Homo sapiens: one gene and its partners. The protein of the gene in region 3 interacts with the protein of the main gene of each other region in a biochemical or structural test. Each region holds a gene or a part of one and is shown on either strand. Other genes may lie near its edges.

Region 1 (3,655 bases), on a different chromosome or scaffold from region 3:
TAGATAAATTAAATTTCTATAAAATTTGAAATGTGTGTGCATCAAAGAACATTATCAAGAAAGTTAAGAGACTGACTACCCACAGAATGGAAGAAAATATATGTAAGTCATATATCTGATAAGGATTTAATATCCAGAATATATAATCAATACATGGCTTGATCCTCATTCCTTGCCAGGCTAATAATATGACTAATACAGATTTAATACTTGTCCCCTCCAGATCTCAGGGTGAAATGTGATCCCCAGTGTTGAAGATGGGCTTGGCGCTGTCTTCACAGTAATGAGTGAGTTCTCACTCTACTAGTTCCCATGAGAACTGATGAGAAGTGATTGTTAAAAAGAGCCTGGCACCTCCCTCCTCTCTCTCTCTTCCTTTTTCTTTTGCCATGTGATGCCTGCTCCTCTTCCCCTTCCTTCATGAGAGGAAGTTTCCTGAAACCCTCACCAGAAGCAAACGCTTCTTGCACAGCACAGCCTGCAGAAACATGAGCCAAATAAAGCTATTTTATTTATAAATTATTTAGCCTCAGGTACTCCAATGCAAATGAACTAAAATAATGGCCCTCTTGACCCCTTAGTGATGCTCCAGAAACATTTCTCAAATGCATGAACCAAATATCTGTGATTAAATTTAGTGCAGAGTTCTACAGAGAAGGAGCTAACTCAGTCCTGTTTAATTGAGGTTTAAAAGAGAACACTGTGATGCTTCTTTGATCATTTATGAATGTTATCTGGTATAACCCTTTGAAGTCCTCTCTCAAAGAGGGCACAGATAAGCAAGACAGCACCACTCAGCACTCTGGAAGGTATTTCTACTTCCTTTCATCTATCCATTTAACAAATATTTACTTAGTGATTAATACACACCAGGCAGTGTAGGCTGTTGTGATTAACACCTTGCCACAGGTCTAGGTAGCTACTGTCGGCTCTCTTTCACTCTCATCCCATGGAATGGTAACTTTTCTCTTGCTTTCCCCCACTACTTCATTATTTTAGAAAGCAACTCATTACACTGAACTGCTTATAGCTTTCATGTACTCCCTCTCCCAGCCTTTGTGACTGCTTTCTCCAGTGTCTAGAACACTCGGACCCATCTTCCTTTCCCTCTTGTGCCATCTTGGTCTAGATAACTCCTGCTTATCTTCTTGGTAAGGAGCTCATCCTGTGAGCTCCCAGAACATCTTCACACATCAGTCACCTGGATTCTAATCTTAAGCTTGTTTATCTGAATCCCTAATAAACTGTAAGCACCAGGAGGACAAGAAGCATGTCTAATTCACCACTGTGTCTTCAGGGCCTAGCATAGCACCTGACACATATTGGGTCCTCAATAAATATGTATTAAATGAATATCATAATTTTCCAATGAATGACATAACCAAGATACAAATGTCTTGCATCTTTGTAGTAGAGGCAGTTTCTTTCTTTTTTCTTTTTTTGAGATGGAGTTTTGCTCTTGCTGCCCAGGCTAGAGTGCAATGGCGCAATCTCAGCTCACTGCAACCGCCGCCTCCTGGGTTGAAGCAATTCTCCCACCTCAGCCTCCTGAGTAACTGGGATTACAGGTATGTGCCACCATGCCTGGCTAATTTTGTATTTTTAGTGGAGACGGGGTTTCTCCATGTTGGTCAGGCTGGTCTTGAACTCCTGACCTCAGGTGATCTGCCCCCCCGCCCCCCTGACCTCCCAAAGTGCTGGGATTACAGGCATGAGCCACCATCCCCAGCCTAGAGGCACTTTCAATGAAACACCATTAACAATCTTTCCAACTAGCCTGGGTGCATAATACTGGCTGGAGCCCTACAGCAGTGACCTCCAGCTGTCAGCAGTGACTAGCAAGGGATAGTCAGTGGAATAATTTTAACAACAAGCTACCAGTGTCACACTTGGGCCCCTTCTCCCTCACACTCAGGGGATAAGCTACTTTTGCTACCACCTCCAATAGTTATGATGAGGAACGCATGTTTTTATTTTACTTACTGCAGATGACTCACAACCAAAGATCCACAACAAATCGTCCAGATCTTTTTCATTGACTGTTTCATCAAGAGAAATACCAAGCTACAGAAACACAAACAAAATGGAAAACATCAACTCTAAACTCCACATCACTGGAGGAATCCCAAGAGAGGTCAAAGGGGAGACAGTGCTAAACAAAATCCCATCATTCCAAAATATCAGGGTACAATTATCTCCACGCTAAGGCTTAGAGGAAGGTGGCTAGACCAGTCCCAGGTTTCACAAGGCTTCGAGTTTTGCCAGCCACCTCTGAACTCTAACATTCCATGGCTGCAGGACACTCCTTTTGAAGCTAGACATGCTTATCTTTTTCTTCCCTTAACCCACTTATCAGATATTGAGGAGATTTTCTTCCCTTAACCTGTATATCAGTTATCAGAGCCTTTATCTTAAAGTCAGTCATACTGTGAAGAGAGGAGTATTATGAACAAAATATGTGCATTTCAGTCCCACATATGAAAACACTAAGTCTAAAAGAAAGCAAAGGGTGAATGATCCTTTACTGAAAAGACCACAGTGTTGCATAATGTAAATAACACTTGTTTATGAAAAAATAGGACTGTGCCTAAAGTTTTCCTTTTTATTTTTTAAAAACAAAGAGAAAACCTTTTAATGAGAAACAATGTGAAAATTTGAAAAACTGGTAAAAATACTGAAAATTTGACTTACTGTGCCATCCTCAAAAAGCCGAAAATTGATCTGCCGCTGAGCGGCCCTGCCCAAGACCTCCTTCACTGAGCAGCCACACTGAATCTTCAAGGTATCAAAGAACAGGTCATGCTGGAGTTGATGCCCTGCTCGCTTGAGACCTACACAAGATAGGAGATCCCCCAAACTCTCATATAGAAACCTGCTCCTCAGCCATTGACATGTCACAGAATAATAAAGAGATAAATTCTACTAGACTCTTGTTGGTCCTGGGGAGTGCTTTGGTGATTGCTTTTTAAAAAACTAAACATGTTTATTATCATGCTGTAGAAAATTATGAAATACATATAAAAGAGTAAGGAAAATCAACATACAATTGCATTACTGCGTGTATTTTGGTGTATTATTTCTCAAGAAATGGGGGAGCAGGTAGTATCAGATATATATATATATATATAAAATTATACCTTTTTTTTTTTGAGAGATACAGTCTCACTCTGTTGTCCAGGCTGGAATGCAGTGGCATGATCATAGCTGATTGCATCCTCAAACTCCTGGGCTCAAGCTCATGCAATCCCCTTGCCTCAGCCTCCCAAGTAACTGGGATCAAGGACTCATGCCATCACACCTGGCTAATAATTTTTTAAATTTTTTGAAGACAGTGATCTTGCCATGTTGCCCAGGCTGGCCTTGAACTCTGGGACTCAAGCAATTCTCCCACCTCAGCCTCCCAAAACGATGGGATTATAGGTGTGAACCACCACACCTGGTCTCATCTATGCTTTCCTATAGATCACTATTTTAAACCATATTTAATGGCTGTACAATAGTCAAACATATGGATGAACCATGATTTAATCACTTTTTTTTTTTTTTTTTGAGAGATGGAGTCTCACTCTGTTGCCCAGGATGGAGTACAGTGGAGCAATCTTGGCACACTGCAACCTCCGCCTCCTAAATTCAAGCAATTCTCCTGCCTCAGCCT
Region 2 (3,755 bases), on a different chromosome or scaffold from region 3:
TGACATCCAGAGTTGCTGTTGCTGCTACCTGTCTAGTCTCTAAGACCCTTTTCAACCCTTGTGACTTAAGACTCTGTGAACTTTTACAAAGTATCTTGTGATCTGGACAGATGATCTGTTTTGTACCCTGCAGATGCATTTAAAAGAATAAATCTGGCAGAATGGTAACCTTGCTTCATTCTGACCATTTTATCAAAGTTACCAAGGACCCTAAGGAATACTTTCTCAAGTATAGTTTTAACACATAGGATTCCTAATTAATTGTTATTCTAATATTTGCTGAAGGTGTTTATATGCTATACAGTCATACACAGATTCTTCTTCAATTAATTTTAGTATATGCTTTTAACTTATGTTTGATAAAAAAATTATGCCAATATTGTTAGGTCGGTGATAGACTATATAAGTTTAGTAAAACTAGCAAAGGTAAGCGGTTAGGCTTCAACATTGTTGTGATCATGCAGTCATCAACTTTGTTTAGAAATTTTGCATTTATCTCCCCTGACCTCAGTTTGTTAAATGGGTTTATTTTTACAGAATCGTACTCATAATCAGCTCTGCATACATCTGAAGAACAAAAACATCAACGTCTTTTGTCCAGCCTCTTTTTCTTCTGCTGTTCCACCTTTCTAAACATACAATAAAGTCATGGGATAAAAATAATCGATGTATGTTACGGGCGCTTTAACCATCAGCTGCCTCTCGAATGGAAGAACAGTGGTAATGGATTAACATCCTATTTTGTTGTACTAAAGTGACAAATCGGAATAATATAATTGGTATGGCCATTAGGTTCAGTCCTTGAAGATAAGAAACTTGTTCTCTGTTTGTTGTCTTATTTGTGGTGGCACTCGTTTAATGGATTAACTGAGGTTGCTCAATGTTCAGTTTCTTTTCCAGAAATACAATGCTAGGTGTTTTGAAATAAAACTTATATAGCAATTGTTTAAAGTTATCAATTGTATATAAAATCACAGTAGCCTGCTAAATCATTGTATGTGTCTGTAGTATTCTATTCCCAGAAACTATTTGACCATGATAATTCAGTTTATATTCACCACATGAAAGAAAAATGGGTAACAGAAGAACCCTTAAAACAGGTTAATTTGGATTGTAACGTTCAGTGAAAGAAATTTCAACCCTTCATAGCCAGCGAAGAAATTTGCCTTGGAAGCCAAGTCAGTACCAGCTTACCTATTTGATTCAGTTGCTGTTTTCTCACTCTCTATATCCATTTGAAATTGATTTATTTTAGATGTTGTATACTTACGTTAGGCTTTCTGTTAATAGTGGTTTTTCTCCTGTTGACAGAGCCACCGGATTATGACACAGGATGAGGAAGATTAAGGATAATCAATTGACTAATTTCATTTAGAATATTATCAAACATTTCAACTAGGTATCAGAAAAAGGCTTTCTTTCATAAGACTATTTTAAATAGAAATTATTTCAACAATTAAAGTAATGTTGACCATCCCCCTCTCAGCTGAATAAAGAAAAATTTAGTTCAATTTATTGCAATTTAATTACAATACTACCTTCACAACATTTTCATGTGTTTTAAATAAATATTTTTTAATTGGCTAAAGGACATTCAAGCAAAGAAATGCTTTCTTTACTTAAAATGTCTATCTCATTTGCTGCCTTTTCACTAAGCCTTTACTTTGTTAATAAAAGTGTCCATTGTGTGATGTTTTTGATTTTACAGTTTGCTAAATCTTATTTTCTTGGAGTTGCTTTTTGGTAACAGCCCCATTGCTACTCCCCATTTTATTGTTTTACATCAATGCATGCTTCGTTGTGATCCCTCAAGATGTAACACTTGGTATGCTCGGTTGAGGATATGAAAAAATACTTCCGAAACCAGGAATTCAATGTATGTTTGTTTTATACTGTTTGATAAGAAAAGTAGGTCCAGCCTTAAGCAGCACAGATGCGCTGGTAGATGCATAGTCAGGAACTTTTTTTATTTCTTTTAGGTCTAGGGACAGGAGTGAATAGAAAGGGAGGAGAGCTCTATTATGTTCTATACACAGATTAGGAGATGACCTTACTGGGTACACCCCTCTAACCAGTGCTTACAGGTTAATGCATGTTAATGAATATTTTTGCAGTTGTAAAGCATAACAATTACAACTACACATCTATTTCTAAAGAATAAAACAGGACCATATTTATTTACTTCTGTCAACTATAGAAAGAAAGACCTTCAGCTGTATTTCCACAGATTTCTCCCAAGGAAAAGGCTAATATTAGTCACTACTGTTATCACATCCCTTTGTATAAGTTTTAAAAAGAGATGGAGGGAGATCTTCATTTCTTTGAGGAGATCAGTATTGTAACGTATGTGAATAGATGATAACAATTAATATTACTAAAAGTCCCACATGAGAGTCCTGACGCCCTCTCCATGCCCCACAGTAATGTGGCTTCTTTCATGGGTTTTTTTTTCTTCTTTTTAGCTGATCTCATCCTAAGCATGCTTTATTTTTCCTTGAAAGCTAGGTATTTATCAACTGCAGATGTTATTGAAAGAAAATAAAATTCAGTCTCAAGAGTAAACCCTGTGTCTTGTGTCTGTAGTTCAAAAGTCAGAAATGATTCTAATTTAAACAAAAAGATACTAAATATACAGAAGTTAAATTCGAACTAGCCACAGAATCATTTGTTTTTATGTCAGAATTTGCAAAGAGTGGAGTGGACAAAGCTCTGTATGGAAGACTGAACAACTGTAAATAGATGATATCCAAACTTAATTTGGCTAGGACTTCAATTTTAAAAATCAGTGTACCTAGGCAGTGCACAGCACGAAATAAGTGGCCCTTGCAGCTTCCCCGTTTAACCCACTGTGCTATAGTTGCGGGTGGAACAGTCAACCTTTCTAGTAGTTTATGATATTGCCCTCTTTGTATTCCCATTTTCTACAGTTTTTTCCGCAGACTTCTTTCTGCAAATTATTCAGCCTCCAAATGCAAATGAATGATATAAAAATAAGTAGGGAACATGGCAGAGAGTGGTGCTTCCCAGCCTCACAATGTGGGAATTTGACATAGGATGAGAGTCAGAGTATAGGTTTAAAAGATAAAATCTTTAGTTAATAATTTTGTATTTATTTATTCTAGATGTATGTATCTGAGGAAAGAAATCTGGTATTTTTGCTTTCCAATAAAGGGGATCAAAGTAATGGTTTTTCTCTCAGTTCTCTAAGCTGGTCTATGTTATAGCTCTAGCAGTATGGAAATGTGCTTTAAAATATGCTTACCTTTTGAATGATCATGGCTATATGTTGTTGAGATATTTGAAACTTACCTTGTTTTCACTTGTGCACTGTGAATGAACTTTGTATTATTTTTTTAAAACCTTCACATTACGTGTAGATATTATTGCAACTTATATTTTGCCTGAGCTTGATCAAAGGTCATTTGTGTAGATGAGTAATTAAAAAATATTTAAATCACATTATAATTCTATTATTGGAGAGCATCTTTTAAATTTTTTTCTGTTTTAACGAGGGAAAGAGAAACCTGTATACCTAGGGTCATTATTTGACCCCATAGTATAACCAGATTCATGGTCTAACAAGCTCTCAGTGTGGCTTTTCTCTGAATGCTTGAATTTCACATGCCTTGCATTTCACAGTTGTACTCCATGGTCAACCGGTGCTTTTTTTCACATCGTGGTACTTGTCAAAACATTTTGTTATTTTCCTTGGTAAAATATATAAAAAAGGTTTTCTAATTTCACTTTGCTGCCAA
Region 3 (3,655 bases):
AAAAGGGCTGGTTTCTGTTTAGCCCTTAGTGAAGAAGCCTAATGGTGGCTGGGGAGGGAGGGGTACAGTGAGGCGCGTCTGACCTCCTCTCCTGCTACGGCCAGGAACTCAAGCTTCCAAGGTTTCTCTGGGGTTCCCTTGACCAAGGGGAGGGCTCCATTCAGTTGGTTGCAGGGCTTAGAATTTTATTTTATATTTTATTTTTTTGAGATGGCATCTCGCTCTGTCACCCAGGCTGGAGTGCAGTGGCATGATCTCGGTTCACTACAACTTCTGCCTCCTGGGTTCCAGCAATTCTCCTGCCTCAGCCTCCCGAGTAGCTGGGATTACAGATGGGTGCCACCACAAATGGCTCATCTTTGTATTTTTAGTAGAGACGGGGTTTCACCATGTTGGCCAGGCTGGTCTCAAACTCCTAACTCAGGTGATCCACCCGCCTCAGCTTCCCAAAGTACTGGGATTACAGGCAGGAGCCACCGCGCCCAGCCTAGAATTTTATTTTATTTTTCTTAAGGAAGGCCTACAATTATTATTATTATTTTTTTTTTTTTGAGATGGAGTTTCGCTCTTGTTTCCCAGGCTGGAGTGCAATGGCCTAATCTCAGCTCACCGCAACCTCCGCCTCCCTGGTTCAAGCAATTCGCCTGCCTCAGCCTCCCGAGTATCTGAGATTATAGGCATGCACCATCACGCCCGGCTAATTTTGTATTTTTAGTAGATATGGGGTTTCTCCATGTTGGTCAGGCTGGTCTCAAACTCCTGACCTCAGGCGATCCACCCACCCGGCCTCCCAAAGTACTGGGATTACGGGCGTGAGCCACCATGACCAACTGGCCTACAAATTTTAAGCAGAAGAAATAAAAGAAAATTCATATGGAAAACCACAGTGGAGAAACCGCAAAACTCCAAAGACAAAAGTCTTAAAAAACAGGCAGAGAGGCCAGACACGGTGGCTCATGCCTGTCATCCCAGCACTTTGGGAGGCCGAGGCGGGTGGATCATGAGGTCAGGAGTTCGACACCAGCCTCACCAACATAGTGAAACCCCATCTCTACTAAAAATACAAAAATTAGCTGGGCATGGTGGCGCATGCCTGCAATCCCAGCTACTCAGGAGGATGAGGCAAGAGAATCGCTTGAACCTGAGAGGGGGAGGTTGCAATGAGCTGAGATCATACCACTGCACTCCAGCCTGGGCAACAGAGCAAGACTCTATCTCAAAAAAACAAAAAATCCAAACAACAACAACAAAAATAAAACAGGCAGAGAACAGATAGCAACAGTTTCAGAAATTTATATGAAAAGCCAAAAGATTCAGACCAGCCAACACAGTACTGAAGGAGAAGAACAAAGGTGGGGAATTAACATCAACCTGTTGCCCAAATTATCTATTTTATTCTCTTATTTATTTATTTATTTTGTTTTGAGATGGAGTCTCACTCTGTCACCCAGGCTGGAGTGCAGTGGTGCGATCTCAGCTCACAGCAACCTCCCCTCCCAGGTTCAAGCAATTCTTCTGCCTCAGCCTCCTGAGTAGCTGGGATTACAGGTGCACCACCACACCTGGCTAATTTTTGTATTTTTAGTAGAGATGGGATTTCACCATTTTGGCAGGCTGCTCTCAAGCTTCCCACCTCAGGTGACCCGCCTGTCTAGGCCTCCCAAAGTGCTGGAATTACAGGCGTGAGCCACTGTGCCCAGTCCCAAATAATCTCTTTTAAATGCAAATCCCTTCACATCATTTTCCTGCCTAAAAATCCTCCAATGCCTCCCATGATCGTCAGGATACAGTTCAAACCCTAACAGAGCAAGCAGGCCTCCCACACTCCAGGTCTCTGCTGCCAGAAACAGACTCTTACATCCAGACGGCCTCATCTCAAAGGTGCTTCCCAGCCTACTCTGTTCCTACAGCTGAGTCAGTGTAGTGTCCAGTACATATTTATAGTAAAATTCGTATGGCACCCAGTTGTAACTGTTGGATGACTCCACCTTATTTTAATTTCTATTCACATCCACAGAACCCAGCAAAGGGCCTGGCACTGAGGAGACTAAACTATTTGTTGAATAAATTGGTCATTCAATGAATGAGTTGACCAAAACAATAATACGTATATATCAAGTTTCTACTATGTGCTGGACTCACACTTCCTAATTTCAAAACTTACTACAAAGCTACAGTAACCAAAACATTATAGTGCAGGCACAAGGATATACAGATAACAATGGAATAGAATTGAGACTCTAGAAATAACCCATACACCTATGGCCAACTGATTTTCAACAACAATGCCAAGACCACAGTTTTTTTAAACAAATGGTGCTGGAACAATTACATATCCACATAAAAGAAAATGAAGCTGGATCCCTACCTTACAGCGCACACAAAAATTAACTCAAAATGGATCAAAGAACTAAATGTAAAAGCTTTAAACTATAAAACTCTTATAAGAAAACAGGAGTAAAACAATACCATTTCTCAGATATGATTCCAAAAGAGTGAGAAAATAAATAGACAAACTAGATTTCATCAAAATCAAAACTTCTATGCATCAAAAGACATCAACAAAGTAAAAAAGACAACCTACAGAATGACAGAAAATATTTGCAAATCATGTCTCTGATAAGGATCTAGCTTCCAGAATATATAAAGGACTCTCTTAACAATAAAAAAGACAACACAATTAAACAATGCGCAAAGGACTTCAATCTCCAAAGATATACAAATGGCCAAAAAGCACATGGAAAGATGTTTGATATCATGAATCATTAGGAAAATGCCAATCAGTGCTACAGTGGGTTACCACCTCCCACCCACTGGGATAGCTGTAATTAAAAAATGGAAAGTAAGTGTTGGGATGTGGAAAAGATGAAACCCTTGCCCACTGTTGGTGGAATGTAAAATGGTCCAGCTTCTGCAGATAACAGTATATTCGTTCCTCAAAAAGTTAAAACGGGCCGGGCGCAGTGGCTCTCGCCTGTAATCCCACACTTTGGGAGAAAGAGGCAGGCGGATCACGAGGTCAAGAGATCGAGACATCCTGGCCAACATGGTGAAACTACTCTACTAAATACAAAAATTAGCCGGGCGTGGTGGTGTGTGCCTGTAGTCCCAGCTACTCAGGAAGCTGAGGCAGGAGAATCGCTTGAACCCAGGAGGCGGATGGTACAGTGAGCCGAGATTGCGCCACTGCACTCCAGCCTGGTGATAAGAGCTAGACTCCGTCTCAAAACAAACAAACAAAAAAGTTAAACATGGGCAGGGCATGGTGGCTCACGCCTGTAATCTTAGCACTTTGGGAGGCCGAGGCGGGTGAACCACCTGAGGTCAGGAATGCAAGAGCAGCCTGGCCAACATGGTGAAACCCCATCTCTACTAGAAATACAAAAAACATTAGCTGGGCATGGTGGCAGGCACCTGTAATCCCAGCTTCTCAGGAGGCTGAGGCAGGAGAATCGCTTGAACCCGGGAGGCAGAGGTTGTATTGAGCCGAAATCGCGCCATTGCACTCCAGCCTGGGTGACAGTGTAAGACTGTGTCTCAAAAAATAAATAAATAAATATAGCTAAACGTGGAGTTACCCAGCAATACTTGTAGGTATCATACTCAAAAGAATAAAAAACAAGGACTCTCAAACGAATACTTGCATATGCTCCAC

Evidence for each region.
Region 1: of the proteins of SIRT3 (region 3) and GLDC, one has a biochemical effect on the other in vitro, tested with the Homo sapiens proteins (one study listed by BioGRID).
Region 2: the proteins of SIRT3 (region 3) and OPA1 form a complex in vitro, tested with the Homo sapiens proteins (one study listed by IntAct).

The regions. Positions count from the first base shown.
Region 1 is NC_000009.12:6,590,160-6,593,814, forward strand, and holds part of GLDC (glycine dehydrogenase (decarboxylating), mitochondrial precursor), read right to left. Parts: intron 2,832-3,655; coding exon 2,692-2,831; intron 2,065-2,691; coding exon 1,984-2,064; intron 1-1,983. UniProt on the Homo sapiens protein: The glycine cleavage system catalyzes the degradation of glycine.
Region 2 is NC_000003.12:193,694,069-193,697,823, forward strand, and holds the end of OPA1 (dynamin-like GTPase OPA1, mitochondrial), read left to right. Parts: intron 1-537; 3' UTR 538-3,743; downstream 3,744-3,755. UniProt on the Homo sapiens protein: Dynamin-related GTPase that is essential for normal mitochondrial morphology by mediating fusion of the mitochondrial inner membranes, regulating cristae morphology and maintaining respiratory chain function.
Region 3 is NC_000011.10:226,220-229,874, forward strand, and holds part of SIRT3 (NAD-dependent protein deacetylase sirtuin-3, mitochondrial), read right to left. Parts: intron 1-3,655.